2 separate regions of the Homo sapiens genome follow, and region 2 is linked to region 1. Evidence: fine-mapped expression QTL. A gene starts in region 1. The other region holds a variant in brackets. All regions are shown on one strand. Distances are between the middles of the regions.

The links.
Region 2: its variant is fine-mapped to the expression of TRIP6 in whole blood (INTERVAL, PIP 0.96).

Annotation. Positions count from the first base shown.
Region 1 is chr7:100,865,127-100,870,497 of GRCh38, forward strand. TRIP6 (thyroid hormone receptor interactor 6) reads left to right here and starts at 2,261. Exons shown (of 9, transcript NM_003302.3): 1 at 2,261-2,480; 2 at 2,735-2,862; 3 at 2,982-3,107; 4 at 3,369-3,740; 5 at 5,244-5,337. The coding sequence starts at 2,372. SLC12A9 (solute carrier family 12 member 9) reads left to right here. Exons shown (of 14, transcript NM_020246.4): 14 at 593-1,884. The coding sequence ends at 1,479. It overlaps MIR6875 (microRNA 6875), which reads left to right and starts at 2,910; the gene lies at 2,910-2,981. RefSeq lists silencers at 1,909-1,998, 2,359-2,508 and an enhancer at 2,949-3,048.
Region 2 is chr7:100,747,671-100,753,041 of GRCh38, forward strand. It overlaps ZAN (zonadhesin), which reads left to right. Exons shown (of 48, transcript NM_003386.3): 10 at 467-545; 11 at 654-800; 12 at 2,955-3,226; 13 at 3,512-3,596; 14 at 4,042-5,371. Among named protein-coding and RNA genes, the nearest start is that of ZAN, 17 kb to the left of the region's middle. The variant G/A (reference allele first, on the strand shown) is at 2,836.

The sequences.
Region 1 (5,371 bases):
TTTGTATTTTTAGTAGAGATAGCATTTCACCGTATTGGCCAGGCTGGTCTCAAACTCCTGATCTCAGGTGATCAACGTGCCTCAGCTTCCCAAGATGCTGCGATTACAGGTGTGAGCCACGGTGCCCTGCCTGGTCCATTTTTTCATCTTCCCATTGCAGAGTCTGGGACGCTATTACCCTGGGGATTCAGGTCATGAGCTTGGCTGATCAGGGTGTCTGGTTTGCACAACAGAGTCAAACTCGCATCCCCTGCCGTGAAACAGATGCCCCGCTAGAAGCCGGGAGTGGACAGCATCCTCCTCTCCATAGAATTGGAGTGCTCATTAGTGGCAAGAATCCTAAGGCGAACTTTGCCTGTTTAAGTGGAGGAGATTAGTCACTGAGATAATAAAATAAATGCATGTGAAAGTGTTTAGGAAAAATGAAAAGTCTTTATGCAAATATGCAGAATGTTGCCGTAAGAGCCCGTACACAGTGGGAATGTCATACCTATGGCTGACGCACCTTGCTGTCAGTGTGTGGGAGCGTGGTGTAAACTTAGCCTGTGAGCCTGACTCCTGTCTGTTCCTGCCTTCCCCGCTCTGCCCCCAGGTGGCATGAAGCCCAACACGTTGGTCCTAGGTTTCTACGATGACGCTCCACCGCAGGACCATTTCCTGACGGACCCGGCTTTCTCTGAGCCTGCAGACAGCACCAGGGAGGGCAGTTCCCCAGCTCTGAGCACCCTGTTCCCTCCTCCCCGGGCTCCTGGGAGCCCCCGGGCCCTCAATCCCCAGGACTATGTGGCCACGGTGGCCGACGCCCTCAAGATGAACAAGAATGTGGTGCTGGCCCGGGCCAGCGGGGCCTTGCCCCCTGAGCGGCTGAGCCGGGGGTCTGGGGGCACCTCTCAGCTGCACCATGTGGACGTGTGGCCCCTCAACCTGCTGCGGCCCCGGGGTGGGCCCGGCTATGTGGATGTCTGCGGCCTCTTCCTGCTGCAGATGGCAACCATCTTGGGCATGGTGCCCGCTTGGCATAGCGCCCGGCTCCGGATCTTCCTGTGCCTGGGGCCTCGGGAGGCGCCTGGGGCGGCCGAGGGGCGGCTGCGGGCACTGCTGAGCCAACTGAGGATCCGGGCTGAGGTGCAGGAGGTGGTGTGGGGCGAGGGGGCCGGGGCTGGGGAACCCGAGGCGGAGGAGGAAGGGGACTTTGTGAACAGTGGGCGGGGAGACGCAGAGGCAGAGGCCCTGGCACGCAGCGCCAACGCCCTGGTTCGGGCCCAGCAGGGGCGCGGCACAGGAGGAGGGCCGGGTGGGCCGGAGGGTGGGGATGCTGAGGGCCCCATCACAGCCCTCACCTTCCTGTACTTGCCTCGGCCGCCAGCCGATCCCGCCCGATACCCCCGCTACCTGGCGCTACTGGAGACTCTAACCCGAGACCTGGGCCCCACGCTGCTGGTTCATGGGGTCACTCCAGTCACCTGCACTGATCTGTGATGCCCCTGCCTCCAGGGCTAGGTAGAGAGGGCCCAGGCAGGCGGCCTATCCTGATCCTTGGAGGAGGAGGAAGAGGAGGCCACTGTGGCCCGTGGCCCTGCCCTTGGGACGTGGAGCCCAGGGGAGGTTTGAAGGGGATCCTGGGCTTGGGCATCACGCCCACCTCCTTTGGCAGAGGGACCCCAGCACACTAACTCTGGGTGGCTGTCCCCACCGTGCAGGGGAGGGAGTCCGCAGCCTCCCTTCACTGGTGCCTTGATGCTAGGGGCCAGGCCTCCTCTGTGACTCTGGGCTACCTCAGTTTCCCCATTTTGGCCAGACTCACCGGCCCACTGGGGTGGTGATGTTTTCGTTCTGTTTTATTTTTCTAACTCTGCTGACCATGAATAAAAGACCAAAACACTACAGGCTGGCTGAGCAGTGCTGGTGGGTAGCTGAGAGGGAGGGGGTGGGAATGGAGAGCTCTGCAGAGGGGTGGAGATCGGAGCCTTCAGCCTCCCGCCGCGAGGCTGCCACGTGCAGGGCTGGGGTGCGGGGCCCGGACGCATCCGTGGACTTGGAGGCTGGCTCGGGCCCGCACCTCCCATCCCCAGCTGCCCGCAACCCCCAGTGACTCGGGATCCCCCGGAGAGCCCTCCCCTCTCGGCAGGAGGGGGCTGACTCAGGGAGAAATGGCAGTTTAGGGCCTAGGGGGCCACGTGACCCTCCCCCAGGAATGTGGTGACGTCATCGGAGGCGTGGTCGTCCCCAAAATTAGGGAGGAAGAGGAAAAAAAAAAGCCAGAAAAAGTTTTCTTTTCTGGAGTCCCAAACGAGGTGCGGGACGGAAGAGGGGGTGAAGGCCAGAGGCTCGGGGCTTCAAGACCGCTGTCTGGAGTCCCCCTTTCCAGGCCATGTCGGGGCCCACCTGGCTGCCCCCGAAGCAGCCGGAGCCCGCCAGAGCCCCTCAGGGGAGGGCGATCCCCCGCGGCACCCCGGGGCCACCACCGGCCCACGGAGCAGGTAAGGCAGCCCTTGTGAGACAGAAGAGCCACCCAGCTGTGGCGCTCACCTCTGTCCTACCGCTCCAGCCTCCCGCCCTGGCTGCTTCCTCCTGCCCCTTCCCCAAGCCGAGGCGGGGGGAACAGCCGCCTGCGCTCTCTTGGGACCCTAGATTTGGGGGAGGAGGTAACGAGAGGCGGAGAGGGTGGCTCCTCAAATATACACCCCTCCTGTCCTCCGCCACCCCACCTTTGATTTCTCTTCCCTCAACCCAGCACTCCAGCCCCACCCCAGGGTCAATTTTTGCCCCCTTCCATCTGAGCAGTGTTACCAGGCCCCAGGGGGACCGGAGGATCGGGGGCCGGCGTGGGTGGGGTCCCATGGAGTACTCCAGCACACGCAGGTGAGACCCGGGATCGTGGGGTGGGACATGTGGGATCCCCCAGAACCGAGTCTGAGGGACCCAGGACAGGAGAAGGCCTATGGTGATTTGCATTCTTCCTGCCCTGGCTCCATCCTCAGGGGCTCCCTGCAGACAGGGGGGGCCTTCGCCCTGGAAGCCTGGACGCCGAGATAGACTTGCTGAGCAGCACGCTGGCCGAGCTGAATGGGGGTCGGGGTCATGCGTCACGGCGACCAGACCGACAGGTGACTCTGCCCCTCCTCCCCGTCAGCACCCTGCCCCCTTCTCTGGACTCTCAGACCCAGCCTGATCGATCCCCCATGTGTGTAATGTGCACCCCAGCATGGAGGAAGCGTGGCTGCAAGTACCAACATGTCAGCCACTTGAGGACGGGACCTTGTCAAATGCAAAAAGCCTGTGCTTCCCCACAGCCAGGGTCATTTCCACAAATGTGGGTCTTGGAGTGGGGTCCTTGCTTACGACTTCTGGCCTGCGTTTCTCCTCAGGCATATGAGCCCCCGCCACCTCCTGCCTACCGCACGGGCTCCCTGAAGCCAAATCCAGCCTCGCCGCTCCCAGCGTCTCCCTATGGGGGCCCCACTCCAGCCTCTTACACTACCGCCAGCACCCCGGCTGGCCCAGCCTTCCCCGTGCAAGTGAAGGTGGCACAGCCAGTGAGGGGCTGCGGCCCACCCAGGCGGGGAGCCTCTCAGGCCTCTGGGCCCCTCCCGGGCCCCCACTTTCCTCTCCCAGGCCGAGGTGAAGTCTGGGGGCCTGGCTATAGGAGCCAGAGAGAGCCAGGGCCAGGGGCCAAAGAGGAAGCTGCTGGGGTCTCTGGCCCTGCAGGAAGAGGAAGAGGAGGCGAGCACGGGCCCCAGGTGAGCCCTGGGGAACTGGGATTTCAGGCCCTACAGACAATGGGACACCGACTGGGTGGGGTGGCTGGTGGTGTTTTAGGGGGCTTTTTTGTTTTTTGAGACAGAGTTTTGCTCTTGTTTGCCCAGGCTGGGGTGCAGTGGTGCCATCTTGGCTCACTGCAACCTCTGCCTCCCGGGTTCAAGTGATTCTCCTGCCTCAGCCTCCTGAATAACTGGATTACAGGCACACGCTGCCACGCTTGGTTAATTTTTGTATTTTTAGTACAGACGGGGTTTCACTAAAACCCCAGTTTGTTGGCCAGGCTGGTCTCGAACTCCCGACCTCAGGTGATCCGCCTGCCTCAGCCTCCCAAAGTGCTGGGATTGCAGGCCTGAGCCACCGCGCCTGGCCAAGGGGCTGGTTTTGGAGCAGAGTCAGAGGTCTGGGACGTGGAATAGGTAAGGGCAGGGCAGTGCGGGGGAGCAGGATAGAACTGCCCATTGGGGCTGAGCGCGGTGGCTCATGCCTGTAATCCCAGCACTTTGGGAGGCTGAGGTGGGTGGATCACCTGAGGTCACGAGTTCGAGACCACACTGACCAACATGGAGAAACCTCGTCTCTACTAAAAATACAAAATTAGCCAGGCATGGTGGCACATGCCTGTAATCCCAGCTACTCGGGAGGTTGAGGCAGGAGAATCACTTGAACCTGGGAGGTGGAGGTTGCGGTGAGCCGAGATCGCACCACTGCTCTCCAACCTGGGCAACAAGAGCAAAACTCTGTCTCAAAAAAAAAAAAAAAAAAAAAAAAGAACTGCCTACGGGCCCCTGGGCTGAGATGTTCTCAGATGAGCTTTCTAGCTGGAACTGCCTGGCCACCTTCAGAGACATTATAGCAGTCCCCAATCTTTTTGGCACCAGGGACCAGTTTTGGGGAAAACAATTTTTCCATGGACTGGGGAGGGGGATGGGAGGGGGTGGGAGGGGGATGGTTTCAGGATGATTCAAGCACATTACATTCATTGTGCACTTTATTTCTGTTATAATAATAATAGAATATATAGTATATATAATTGTTTCGGTATATATTACAATGTATATTACAATGTAATATATACCGAAACAATTATACAATTCACCATCATGTAGGATCAGTGGGAGCCCTGAGCTTGTTTTCCTGCAACTGGACAGTCCCATCTGGGGGTGATGGGAGACAGTGACAGATCATCAGGCATTAGATTCTCATAAGGAGCTTGCAACCTACATCCTTCGAACACACAGTTCACAATAGGGTTCATGCTCCTATGAGAATCTAACGCCGCTGCTGATCTGACAGGAGGTGGAGCTCAGGCGGTAATGCAAGTGATGGGGAGCAGCTGTAAATACAGATGAAGCTTTGCTTGCCCATTGCTCAGCTCCTGCTGTGTGGCCCAGTTCCTAACAGGCCATGGCCTGGCGGCTGAGGGCCCTGGTATTACAGCATCAGGAGCTAGAGTAGGACCGAGCCCGATTCCCACCTTCCAGGTGCCCCTGAGCCAGCCTCCAGAGGATGAGCTGGATAGGCTGACGAAGAAGCTGGTTCACGACATGAACCACCCGCCCAGCGGGGAGTACTTTGGTGAGCTGAGGCTGTGGGGTGGGTGGGACGTGGG
Region 2 (5,371 bases), 120 kb before region 1:
CACATGGTAGGCACACCCAATGTTGAAATAAATTGAGGGGCCTGGTGCTGTGGCTCATGCCTGTATTCCCAATACTTTGGGAGGCTGAGGAGGGAGGATCGCTTCAGGACAGGAGTTCAAGACCAGCCTGGGCAACATAGAAAGACCCCATCTCTACAAAAAAATACAAAAATTAGGCGGGCACAGTGATGTGTGCCTGTAGTCCCAGCTACTAGGGAGCCTGAGGTGGGAGGATCACTTGAGCCCTGGAGGTCAAGGCTGCAGTGAGCTATGATCACACCACTGTACTCCAGCCTGGGCAATAGAGCAAGACTCTGAAAAAAAAAAAAAAAGAAAGAAAGAACTGAATTGAGGGTCTGGGCACAGGGAGTAGGGATTCTGGGTCCTGGAATGGAGTCGAGTTAGATCAGGGGCTTGGGGGTGTGGGCTGTGTGCTCACTCCTGCTCCATCTCCCTTTCTCTCCAGTTTGCCGTGGTAGGCGTTTTTGGAAAGACCCCAGAGCCAGCTGTGGCAGTTGATGCAACCAGCATTGCTCCTTGTGGGGGTGAGAGCAGGCCCTGAGAGGCCCGGATCTCTCAGAATCCGGGGTGGGCTGGGGGAGGGCTGGAGAGCGTCACTCAACTTGCTCAAATATCCTATTTTGATCCCCCAGAGGGTTTTCCTCAGTGTGACTTTGAAGACAACGCCCATCCCTTCTGTGACTGGGTCCAGACTTCCGGGGATGGTGGACACTGGGCCCTCGGACATAAAAATGGACCCGTCCATGGCATGGGCCCTGCGGGAGGTTTCCCTAATGCAGGTGAGGAGATTGAGGAGCGCTCACGCCAAGAAATCACTCAGTCTGCTCCCAGGTAGCAGGCTGGCTGCTGTGACTGATGGGAGACGTTGTTTCAGGCAGTGGGAAGATCAGTCCACAGGTGTTTTTTCGGAAGTTTCCATGGTACTGGAATTGTGGAGATAGCAGAGTAACTTAAAGATTCTCAGGGCTGGGGGGTCACTGAAATCCTGAGAAAACCCAGGCATCTCACTTCATGGAGCCCAAAGCTTCAAAACCCACCACCTCATTTTCAGTCTAGACGTTTATGAGTGGCTCATGCCTGCAATTCCAGCACTTTGAGAGGCCGAGACGGGAAGATTGCTTGAGCCCAGGAGTCTGAGCTCAGCCTGGGCAACATAGTGAGAACCCCATCTCTAGAAAAAAAAATTTTTTTTTAATTAGCTAGATGTGGTGGTGTGTGCTTGTGGTCCCACCTACTTGCGAGGCTGATGTGGGAGGATCGCTTCAGCTCAGAAGTCAAGGCTGCAGTGAGCTATGATTGAACCAGTGCACTCCAGCCTGGGCAACAGAGCAAGACCTTGTCTCTAAAAATTAAAAATAAAAAAATAGGCCAGGCATGGTGGCTCACGCCTTTAATTCCAGCACTTTGGGAGGCCGAGGCAGGTGGATCACTTGAGGTCAGGAGTTCGAGACCAGCTGGGCAACATAGTGAAACCCTGACTCCACTAAAAAAAATGTAAAAATTAGCCGGGAGTGGTGGCGTGCACCTGTAGTCCCAGCTACTCAGGAGGCTGAGGCAGGAGAACTGCCTGACCCCAGGAGGTGGAGACTGCAGTGAGCTGAGATCGCACCACTGCACTCCATCCGGGGCAACAGAGTAAGATTCTGTCTTAAAAATATATAAAAAGAGGCTGGGCGCAGTGGCTCACACCTGTAATCCCAGCACTTTGGGAGGCCAAGGAGGGCGGATCACAAGGTCAGGAGATCGAGACCATCCTGGCTAACACGGTGAAACCCCGTCCCTACTAAAAACACAAAAAATTAGCCAGGCATGGTGGTGGGCGCCTGTAGTCCCAGCTACTCGGGAGGCTGAGGCAGGAGAATGGCGTGAGCCCGGGAGGCAGAGCTTGCAGTGAGCCGAGATCACGCCATTGTACTCCAGCCTGGGTGACAGAGTGAGACTCCGTCTCAAAAAAAAAAAAATATATATATATATATATATATATACACACACACACATATATATACACACATATATATATACACACACACACATATATATATATAAAGAAATAATTTTTTAAAAAGACAATAATGAGGGTGGGGTGCAGTGGCTCACACCTGTAATCCCAATGCTTTGGGAGGCTGAGACGGGTGGATCACTTGAGGCCGAAAGTTCAAGACTAGCCTGGCCAACATGGTGAAACCCCACCTCTACTAAAAACACAAAAATTAGCCAGACATGGTGGTACACACCTGTAATCCCAGCTACTTGGGAGGCTGAGGCAGGACAATCGCTTGAACCTGGGAGGTGGAGGTTGTAGTGAGCTGAGATCGTGTCACTGCACTCCAGCCTGGGCAACAGAGCGAGACTCCATCTCAAAAAAACAACACACACACACACACACACACACACACACACACACACACGACATTAATGAATGTAATCTAGGTTGCTGGTTTGTTATTCCCTTTTTTTCTTTTTTGAGATGGAGTCTTGCTCTGTTGCCAGGCTGGAGTGCAGTGACGTGATCTTGGCTCACTGCAACCTCCACCTCCGGAGTTCAAGCAATTCTCCTGCCTCAGACTCCCGAGTAGCTGGGACTCCAGGCACGGGCCACCACGCCCAGCTAATTTTTGTATTTTTAGTGGAGACGGGGTTTCACCATGTTGGCCAGGATGGCCTTGATCTCTTGACCTCGTGATCCGCCAGCCTCGGCCTCCCAAAGTGCTGGGATTACAGGCATGAGCCACCGTGCCTGGCCGCTTTTCCCTTTCTTTGTGATCCCACCTTCTTTAGTTAGATGTCTAAAATGAGCAGAAAAAATAATGCTAC[G/A]ACCTGGGAAATTTGAGTGTTTGCTCAGATTCCCGTTCAGAAAGCAAAGCTTTGCTAAAGCAGCAGTTGGCATGTCCTGTGCAGGCTTCTTACCTTGCCTGTTCCCTTCCTTTGCCTAGGGGGTCACTATATCTACCTTGAGGCTGACGAGTTCTCCCAGGCAGGCCAGTCAGTCAGACTGGTGAGCCGGCCCTTCTGCGCCCCAGGTGACATCTGCGTGGAGTTCGCATACCACATGTATGGCCTTGGGGAGGGTACTATGCTCGAACTCCTCCTGGGAAGTCCTGCGGGGAGTCCCCCGATTCCTCTCTGGAAACGCGTGGGGTCTCAGCGCCCTTACTGGCAGAACACCTCCGTCACCGTCCCCTCAGGACACCAACAGCCCATGCAGGTGAGAGACGGAGGCGGGGGTCCTGTCTGTGTGAGGTGAGAGGGCCAATGCCTGGGATCTGGGGGCGCCACCAGTGCTGAAGAGGTGGAAAGCTGGAAAGAGAGCCGAGAAAAGGGGAACTTCGTGTTACAGAAAGTGAGAAAGGGGCCGGGATGGGGCTGGACTGTTGAGGCTGGAACAAGGCGACATTTTGGCAGAGAACAGATTCTATGCCCAGTGGAATCACAGAGTTGCTGGAGATTCATTTTTGTTTCTCTCTCCGTCTCTCTCCCTTGTCGCCTTTAGCTTATTTTCAAGGGCATCCAGGGAAGCAACACGGCCTCTGTGGTTGCTATGGGTTTCATCTTGATCAATCCTGGGACTTGTCCAGGTAAGACCAAAGCCCAGGCTCCAGGAAGGGGGCGGTGCCCTGAGGTTCCCTGGAGTTCTCTCTATGAACTGCTTAAAATGTGAGTCCTCCCTGGAGCCCGAATTCTCACCCAGCTGGCTTTGTTTTCCATCTTCAACACACCTCTCCTTCCCCTGCACTTCAAGATGTTTGCCTGGGTGAATGTGGCTTCGATACCATGGATTTTGGGGGCTGGATCCAGAACTCCTTCCTCTGCAGTCTTGAAGGCTGGACCCATATCCTATTCATTTCTGGCATAATATCTGACATATATTAGTGTTCGTTGAGTGGATGAAGGTTGGGGTTTGGGAGTAGAAAGAGAGGTGTGAATAAGCCACCCATGGGAGCCCACTCCAGTTAGATGGCAGTAAAGAGGGTGGTGGTATGGTTTTGACTAAACTCCAGGGATTCTTATTTTTCTTTGCAGTAAAAGTGCTACCAGAGCTTCCTCCCGTATCTCCAGTTTCTTCCACTGGCCCTTCTGAAACCACTGGCCTCACAGAAAACCCTACAATCTCCACCAAGAAACCTACAGTTTCCATAGAAAAACCCAGTGTCACCACAGAAAAGCCCACAGTCCCCAAAGAAAAGCCCACCATTCCCACAGAAAAACCCACCATCTCCACAGAAAAACCCACCATTCCTTCAGAAAAACCCAACATGCCCTCAGAAAAACCCACCATTCCCTCAGAAAAACCCACCATCCTCACAGAAAAACCCACCATTCCCTCAGAAAAACCCACCATTCCCTCAGAAAAACCCACCATTTCCACAGAAAAACCCACCGTCCCCACAGAAGAGCCCACCACCCCCACTGAGGAGACCACCACCTCCATGGAAGAGCCTGTCATCCCTACAGAAAAACCCAGCATCCCTACAGAAAAACCCAGCATCCCCACGGAAAAACCCACCATCTCCATGGAAGAGACTATCATCTCCACAGAAAAACCCACCATCTCCCCAGAAAAACCCACCATCCCCACAGAAAAACCCACCATCCCCACAGAAAAATCCACCATCTCCCCAGAAAAACCCACCACCCCCACAGAAAAACCCACCATCCCCACAGAAAAACCCACCATCTCCCCAGAAAAACCCACCACCCCCACAGAAAAACCCACCATCTCCCCAGAAAAACTCACCATCCCCACAGAAAAACCCACCATCCCCACAGAAAAACCCACCATTCCCACAGAAAAACCCACCATCTCCACAGAAGAGCCCACCACCCCCACTGAGGAGACCACCATCTCCACAGAAAAACCCAGCATCCCCATGGAAAAACCCACTCTCCCCACTGAAGAAACCACCACCTCTGTTGAAGAGACTACCATCTCTACAGAAAAACTCACCATCCCCATGGAAAAACCCACCATCTCCACAGAAAAACCCACCATCCCCACAGAAAAACCCACCATCTCCCCAGAAAAACTCACCATCCCCACGGAAAAACTCACCATCCCCACGGAAAAACCCACCATCCCCATTGAAGAGACTACCATCTCCACAGAAAAACTCACCATCCCCACAGAAAAACCCACCATCTCCCCAGAAAAACCCACCATCTCCACGGAAAAACCCACCATCCCCACGGAAAAACCCACCATCCCCACTGAAGAGACTACCATCTCCACAGAAAAACTCACCATCCCCACAGAAAAACCCACCATCTCCCCAGAAAAACTCACCATCCCCACAGAAAAACCCACCATCTCCACGGAAAAACCCACCATCCCCACGGAAAAACTTACCATCCC